3 separate regions of the Homo sapiens genome follow, and all the other regions are linked to region 3. Evidence: fine-mapped expression QTL. A gene starts in region 3. Each other region holds a variant in brackets. All regions are shown on one strand. Distances are between the middles of the regions.

The links. PIP is the estimated chance that this variant, and not a neighbour inherited with it, causes the effect.
Region 1: its variant is fine-mapped to the expression of CTBP2 in tibial nerve (GTEx, PIP 0.91).
Region 2: its variant is fine-mapped to the expression of CTBP2 in anterior cingulate cortex (GTEx, PIP 0.98).

What each region holds. Positions count from the first base shown.
Region 1 is chr10:125,048,633-125,051,387 of GRCh38, reverse strand. All of the region lies in intron 2 of CTBP2 (C-terminal binding protein 2), which reads left to right. Among named protein-coding and RNA genes, the nearest start is that of MIR4296, 17 kb to the right of the region's middle. The variant A/T (reference allele first, on the strand shown) is at 1,424.
Region 2 is chr10:124,993,401-124,996,155 of GRCh38, reverse strand. It overlaps CTBP2 (C-terminal binding protein 2), which reads left to right. Exons shown (of 11, transcript NM_001329.4): 7 at 1,473-1,687; 8 at 2,171-2,301. Among named protein-coding and RNA genes, the nearest start is that of MIR4296, 38 kb to the left of the region's middle. The variant T/C (reference allele first, on the strand shown) is at 1,240.
Region 3 is chr10:125,159,424-125,162,178 of GRCh38, reverse strand. CTBP2 (C-terminal binding protein 2) reads left to right here and starts at 1,616. Exons shown (of 11, transcript NM_001329.4): 1 at 1,616-1,860. RefSeq lists an enhancer at 236-845.

The sequences.
Region 1 (2,755 bases), 110 kb after region 3:
GATTACAGGCGTGAGCCACCATGCCTGGCCTGAAAAGGTATTTTAATTGCTTTGGGGACTTAATTGACATCAAGACCATAAATGTTCAGGCTTGGATGACTATGGCAGGAAGTACATGAGGAGTGGGCCTCCAGGGACCTGCCTTTCCCTAAGGGTCTCCATGTACCGTTTTCGAATGGTGTCTGGGGTGGGGACATAAACTTGGGATCCAGGTATCCTGAGTCCTCGGACCTTTTTTCCCATTTATTTGTCTGGCTTGGGCTCTAACATGCACAATATCCCCATAAAATGTCTCAGAGCAGATTTTTAAATGGCCATTACCTTGTCAAGAATTCTCCAGTGGGATTTCATGTAAAATTAGGATCCCTGATGGTAGCTCACGATGAGCTGTAATTCTCCACATAGGTGACTGTATTCATGGGCACCATCCACCCTCCTCATCCAGATGTCTCCCTCTCCAGAGGACTTTGGTGCAGGAGGCCTGTGAGGACCCCAGTTCATTATGACAAGGTTGCAGTTCTCTAGAAGATTCTCATCAGGAGCCTTGTCTACTCCTCCCCAGCAACCTCTTTCCACTAACTTATATTTTAGCTATAGCCTGGAACATTCTGAGCTATGATGAGTGTTAAAATGGGGTGGTGTACTCGTCAGAGACCTGGAGACCGGGACTGGAAGCCACTGTGAAACAGGTGAAATGATTCAAGAAGACAGCTGAACCCCAGCGACACCCCATAACAGAAACAAAAGAACTCTTGTGAGCCGCACCCCCACCCTTCCTTTTCCCGGCATTTGATAGGCAAAGATGAATTTGTGTGACACGGGAGTGTCCCACCCTCCTCCTCCCCATCAGACTCTGCGAGACGCCCGCTCTCCCTTTGGGTGCAGTCATGGATACCAAACAAAGCCTTCATCCCTCTGGGTTTCCGTTACGTAGCCGTCTTCCACGTGAAAACCGTGTTAAGCAAAATGAATAGCTGCAAGCTATTTTATTTCATGTTAAATAACTGTGGATAAGACTAAGATTTTTCTCTTTATGACTCAGGTTGAAAAGATAAGGTCTGGGAAGCGGTGTCTTTGAATCTAGAGATTTTCTGGAGTTAGGGATGTCTGATTTCTACATATCATTTCCACGACCTGTCGCAGGAGACAGGGTACCGGTGCCCCATGATGCTGCAGAGCGGCTTTTGGTGATAGAGACGCATTATGGAATGTGTATACTTGTAAGGACCCAGGCATAGAGTATCTGCCCTCATAAAGCAAACATAATCCTCCACTCCTGAGGTCTGAGTTGGCTCTCCTGGATGCCAGCCTTTGCATGATGAGTGATGCCTTAGTTGAAATGAAGGATGGGCCACCCCAGGTGCCTGGAGCACTTTTATCCCAGTGCATGCCCAAACTACTGGTGTCCTAAACAGTTGGCCCC[A/T]CAGACGTGGGGTTTGGGGAGCTGAGCTGTGCACTGGGGCGGTGGCTACACTGGCCTGGTCACGTCAGGCTGGGCAGAAGAGTTGGAGCGGGGTGGCTCAAGAGTCTTGATTTGGTTTGACTCTATAACTTGGCTGGCATGGAACTTGGAAGGCTGGGTCCCCACTCCTTCAGCAGGTGGGCCCCTTTGGAGGGAGCCGTTCCTGCTTGTTTTTGAGATAATCTCTCCGGACACTTGGCAGCCCAGCCAGCGTTTGCTTTGATAGCTTATCTCTGCCCGTCCAGCTTGAACTCCCCTTTCCCACCATCTTCGACCATGCCTGCGGGTCTCCACCTCTCCCTGGCCACCATGTAGCCCTCATTCCTTGCTGAAGGTTCCACACTGAAGTGGGTTGTACAGAGGAACCTCGTCCTGGAAAGTGAAAGCAAGTCCCACTGAATGTGACTTGGAGCAAGCTTGTGAGGTATTCGTGGCATCAGAGCCATGAAGAGAAGGTGGAGAGGCGCTGCCTGGGGGAGGTGGCACCGGAGCTCAGGTGGGGGCTCCCCAGGATCCGCACGTGTGTGGGGTCTATCCAAAGGCATCCTCTGCCAAATCAGGCCAAGCATGTGCTGTATCACTCAGTGGTATCCTGCTGCTGTGACAACTGTGGCGACTTTGAAATGATGGTAAGAAAGAGTGTCCTGTGACGGTGGGGACTGAATTAGGCACATCTGTCTCCCGTAGTGGGGCATTAGTGGGCTACACCAGCCCCTCCCATTCTTCTCCAACCAGAAACTGTCAGGTACCCTGCCAGTGTGGAGAAGAGGTGGCCAGCATCTTAGAACTTGGTGAAAGGGGTGTTGTGTGTGTATGTGTGTGGTCAGGTGGACGTGTGTGTGTGTGTGTGTGTGTGTGTGTGTGTGTGTGTGTGTGTGTCTGTGGTCAGGCGGGCAAATTGAGGCCAGAGAGCACATTAATGTGCATTCTGGCCAGAATCAATTCCTGGGGAAAGTTGGAAAAATCTCCTTTCCTTTCTAAATTAGTGTCTACCAGGAAAAAAAGTTGTATATCTTAAGATCATACTTGTCTCACAGCAAACTGATCCTGGTGTTGAGTCAAATTGAGCCTGTTGATCAGGTGTGCATAGTGCTCCAGAGGCTGTCATTTGTAATGGAAAGCCTAAGGGGCATTTGCGGAGCAGCCCAGCCGGCCCCTCCCCAGCACCGTCCTCTCTGTGTGTGTTCCGTCTCTGCCAAGTTGTTTCCAATTTTCAACACTAACTGGTTGCTGTCAGCAGACGTAATGGAAAAATCATTTGTCAGGGTGGCCCCTGGCTCCCTGGGGTCGGGG
Region 2 (2,755 bases), 170 kb after region 3:
CTGGGTTTTGATTAAGTCAGTAGCAGGATTAAGTCATTGGGTCATCAGAAAATCTCATGGATAAAGTTCAAGGGGTTTGTGAACTTTAAAAAAAAAAAAAAAAAAAACAAAGAAATAGCCGTCGGCACGGTTCAAATCTGGGCTTGGTGCTCTGGGCTGCTTTTCCACAGGCCCTCCAGGCCCTGGATCTGCAGAGTGTGAGCCCCACTGATTGAAGCATGTTCGTGCACAGACGCCATGAGGGGGATGGAGGCTGCAGGAACGGGGGAAGGCAGGCGGGGGTCCTGTGAAGTGTGAGCTCCCAGCAGTTGCATGCTGGGGTCCTCAGTTTCATGTTGCCAGTGCGTCAGAGAGCCATCTCTCACTCCGTCCCTGCCACCGTCCAGTCCTGCCTGCTGTAAAGGGTGACACTGAGGAGGAGAGGCGTGATGGTTCGTGCCTTGCTATACTAGTTGTCCTGCAGCTGTCCCTGATCAGACTGGCCTTATTCAACCTTTGTTCTAAACTACGGCAGTTGTCCTAGCCAGGCCATCGGTTAGATGGAGCTGCTGCAGGAGGAGCCATCCAGCATTGAGGTACCCCTGGAACACAGGCTGCCTGCTCGGAAATGCGCATCTTTGTCCTTCTCCTGCCTGCACCTTGGAGCCATGGCTTTAAAGATTCCTTCTGTGATCTCCAAGAGAACCAGTCGAGCATCAACACTAACCATTTTGTTTTCAAAATGCTGAAAACTGCTCTGGGAAGCTGGAGGTGCTATCGAGGGGGACCCCATGGGTTTATGAAATGACAGCCGTTGGGGAGTGGGAGACACCTCCTCATCCTGTGACATAGCTGGCGGGAGGCCCAGGCTGCATAATGCAGATGGGCGCGAGGCCCCACCAGTGGGACAGGTCCAGGTCTGATGGTCATGTGCCCTGCCTCCCGCCCAGAACACAGTAGCATGTGGCCAGTCTGCACTCGGGCCAGCCTGCAGGGAGCCATTGTGCTCATGTCACCCTTTGCAGGAGCGAGCCCAGCAATGAGGAGGCAGGACATTACTCCCTGTGACATTGAGAGCAAGTTTTTCAAACACAAAGCTCATGTTAAGAAGCCTGCAGTGCACACAAGAAGTGGGGAGAGGGGTGGGAACGGAGGACACGGGTGGTGATGGGAGGGGCATGTGGGCTTGTCAGAACACTCTGTGTTTGAAAATGTCAATAACAAGGAAGGGTTTTGTTTTGTTTTTAACAAAAATCCTGC[T/C]GTACCCAATATAAGCAGCAAGCACTGCGGTCCTCACCTGTCCTACACCGGCCATGGTGGCCCCTCGCGGGCAGTGCTCGCCTCAGGCCTCACTAAGCTTTGGGCACACGGTTTCTCTGGCAGCAGCTACCAGCGGGGATGCCAAGCCCGGACTCAGCTCAGAAGCAATGGAGGTGGCAGCGCTGGGGCGCGGGCTGTGGACTCACTCACCTGGACGCTCTGTTTCTGTACAGGTCGCACGGGGCAGGCGGTTGCAGTTCGAGCCAAGGCCTTTGGATTCAGCGTCATATTTTATGACCCCTACTTGCAGGATGGGATCGAGCGGTCCCTGGGCGTGCAGAGGGTCTACACCCTGCAGGATTTGCTGTATCAGAGCGACTGCGTCTCCTTGCACTGCAATCTCAACGAACATAACCACCACCTCATCAATGACTTTACCATAAAGCAGGTAATTTGAAAATAGATGCCATGGAAGCTTCTGTCGAAAGGTGGTAGCACTTGCTTGTGGGCACAAGAGGGACACGGAGGGCAACGGAGGTGGTTTCTGGATACACTGTTGAGCAGGGAAGAGGCCCTGCAACAAACCAGTGACAAGCCACGTGAAGCCCCTTCCTCGGGCTGAGCCAGGCTAAGCAGAGAAGGACAGGCGCTAGCCAGGACCCAGCTTCAGAAGCTTCCCAGAACCTTTAAAGAGGCCAGCAGCTCGGCACAGTCCAGCCTTTCCACCGTGTTGCTTCCTCTCAGGATCAGCAGCAACGGCCCTGGCTTCCAGCCGTCACCAACACTTCCCACTCCCTTCCCTCAAACTGCAGCACACACATTAAACCACCAGACCAACAAAACTAGCTTGCAGCTTTCTTCTTTAAACCTTGGTACAAGAGTCTTCCACCATGCCAGTGTGCCTGTAACCGGCTTTTCTTTCCTTCCACAGATGAGGCAGGGAGCATTCCTTGTGAACGCAGCCCGTGGCGGCCTGGTGGACGAGAAAGCCTTAGCACAAGCCCTCAAGGAGGGCAGGATACGAGGGGCAGCCCTCGACGTGCATGAGTCAGAGCCCTTCAGGTGCGTGTTGCCCCAGCCGCCTACCAGGAGCCCACAGGGCCCAGCTCCACACCTGACCCCCACACTTTGAACTCGAGGCCCTTTTCCCAAACAGGTCCCTGGGCAGGAAACTCCAGAGATGACATTTACAGTCTCTGTTCTTCTAAGGATTGTGCTGTATTCTAATTGTAAAAGGGCTGGAAGTTTCCCAGAGGTCATCAGGGAAAGGAGAGGCAGAAAATTGGTGGGGGTGTGGCAGTGGTTCTGGTCTTCAGACAGACAGGCATCATCTCTGCCCTGGATTACAGCAGGACAAGCCTTCAATAGAATTGGGCTTTTTGATCTACCAATTATACGGTTCTTACACAACTTTGATAATTACATTCAAAAATTCCCAGCCTTCATAAAATATCATCACAGATGTTCCTGTATCCATGCTATCTATGTAGCTACTTTTCTACATGGCCAAGAGCTC
Region 3 (2,755 bases):
CAGCTCCTAATATCTCAATAGGGTTTTTAAACAAATCGATCCTAAGGGCTCAGTTCAGCCCACCCAGGGATTCTTGGAGGACGCACGCCGAACTCAGGGTAGTGAGAAGAGTTTGGGGGGCCCTGGGGCGCAGGGAGAAGACCCCACACTCCACGGCCACCAGCTCCCTTCCGGAGACGGCGCTCGGACGTCGCGGGTCACGGGCGGGGAATTTAGCCCAGGTGCTCGTTGGGCCGCGAGCGGCCGCTGGGCCTGGATTCCCAGGCTCGCTGTGCAGACTCCAACCTTGAGACGTCAGGACGGCGTGGGCTCCGGGCCGCCGCGCAAGCCCAGGACCCCGAGTCGCGGGCCCCCACGCCGCAGCGCGCCTCCCTCCTCGAGACCCGGGGCTCCGACCCAACACAGGGCTTCTCAAATGCCCCGGCGAGATCCAGGCAGCAAGAGGGAACCTTTTTTTTTTTTTTCAATGTGTAAGAATGTTTTGCTTCTTTTAGGGCACAGCACTGCTGCAACTTGCAGCACAGAGGGCCCTTCCCTGCGCACCCACAGCGGTCGCCGCCTCTCCGGCACGGTCTCCCGGATCTGGATTTGGGGAGCGCAAGTGCCCCCTGTGGCCGGCCCGCGCCTGACCCCGCGGGCCTGAGAAGGCAGAAGCGGCCGGTGCGGGGCACCAGGAGGAAGTTGGAGCCCGGGGGCCGGGAAGGGGGCTGGTTGGCGCCGCTGGCTGGGCGGGGCCCCATGGGACCGGGGCCACCCGGGGCTCGCGTTCCCCCACGTGGCCGGCTGCCCGGTACCCCACGTGGAAGGGGCGGAGGAGGATGAAGGGCCAGGGGAGCAGCGGACCCCGAGCCACCGCGACAGGACCTCGGCCCCTGCCACCGAGGCCCCCGCGCCTCCCGAGGGCCTCCCGGGCGGGGCCGGGCTAGGGAGTGCCCGCCGCGCCCGGCCCCTGGCCCTCCCGCCCGCCGCGCTTGTGTGCACTTTCGCGGAGCCACTAATCCCCCGAGAGAGCCGATTTGTAGTGAGGAGTATCTGAAGGGGGCGAGGCCGGCCCATGTGGGGTTGTGTCATTGGTTTGCAAAAAGAGACCCCGCCTTTGCCCCCCCCCCCCAAAAACAGGAGCGAGGAGTGAGCGAGCGGCGACCCTCACCTCGCCTCCCGCCTAGCTCCTGCGCAGCCAGCGGGTACCGGGAGCTGCGGCCAGCGCCGCTTCTTTCCTTTCCTTTTCTCTCCGTTTTCCTTCTCCTTCCCCGGAGGAGAAAACAAATAAAGAAGAGCAAATAGCCGGGAGGCGCTCGGCATCCAGGACGTTCCCTCCCCCGATCCAAGTTGGAATTAGCATCCTCTCGGGGGTGAGCGCGGCGCGGGGCGGGCCCGGGCCGGGGACCCCCAGCGCAGCCCCCTCTCGGCGGGCGGGAGGGCGCGGGGCCGGGACGCGGGGGGAATTGGGAACCGGGTGGGCGGAGGAAGGGGGTGGGGTGGGTGGGGAAGTAGGAAGAGGCTCGGCGGCGAGGGGAGGAGGTGGAAGGGAAGGGAGGGGTAGGGTGGGGAGGGGAGGGGAGCGGAGGGAGGGTGGGGAGGGCGGGAGGGGGAGGGGCGGGGAGCTGGAGAGATTAAGTTTTTGTGTGTGTGTCCCTGTGTGCGTGTGTCATTTTAAGGTGGCTCGGGAGCGGCCCGGAGGAGCCGGCGGCGGCCCGAGGAGCGAGGGACCGAACCGGGAGCCATGCCGCGCTGAGGGGGGGCCGCACAGCCGCCGCCACCGCCACCGCCGCCGGGTGGGGTGGGAGGGGCGGGAGACGCCGCCGCCGCCGCCTCCAGGGTGGGCGCCTTTCGCCGTGGACGCCGACCGTCCGGGACGAGGTAAGGGGGGCCCCGGGGGAGGGCTGGGGCCGCCGCCGCCCCCGCCTCACCTGCGGCCGCGGGCTGGGGGCGCCGCGCCCGCGCCTCACTGCGCCACTCAGGGAGGAGGAGGAGGAGGAGGAAGAGGGCGAAGGACGCGGAGCCGGCATCCGAGGACATCTTTGGTCCGTGCCCCCGGCCTCGTGTCCCCCCTCGGCGCCCGGGGGTGGACGCTGGCTCGGGGGTCCCCGCCCGCCCCCGCCACCGATTGCGCCCGCTGGCCGCCGTTTGCGCCAGGATTTTTGTTGTTGTGATGAGAGTTGATGAATGCGAAGTAGGCGGTCACCTTCCTTCCCATCAGGGTTGAAAAAAAAAAAAAAAGAAACCCCGAGCGCGGCGGCGTCCGGAGGGCAGCGGCGGCGGCGGCGGCGGCGTCTCGGCGACGGTTCCCTGGGCGCCCCCGGCTCCTGCTCCCTGAGCCCGGTGGGTGCGCGCCCGGGGGCCGCCGGCGACCCAGGCCGAGCGCGCGACGCGCCGCGGGGACAATACGGCCGGATCTCCGGGGAACAGGAGTCCGAGCGCGCCGGGGTGCGGCGGGCCTTGCGCCTACGAGGCGAGGGTGGGGGGGGCGCGGAGAAGAGGGGTTCCGTGGGGAAGTCGGGGCGTGAGCGGCTCTCGGTCCCCAGGGGCGCTGCCCCTGCCGGCGGGGGATCCCGCGCGGCTCCCCGGGAGCGCAAGTGAAAGACGGGAAAGGAGGCGAAGTGGAACCCTTTTGTTTTGCCGGCCCCGCATTGTTGGCTCCTCCGGGCAGCCGGGCCACATCTGCTGCCGCTGCCGCCGCCGCCACTGCCGCGCGGGGCTCGGCCCGCCAAAGTCGCGGCGGGGCGGGGGGCCTGGGCGGGCCGGGCGGCGGGCG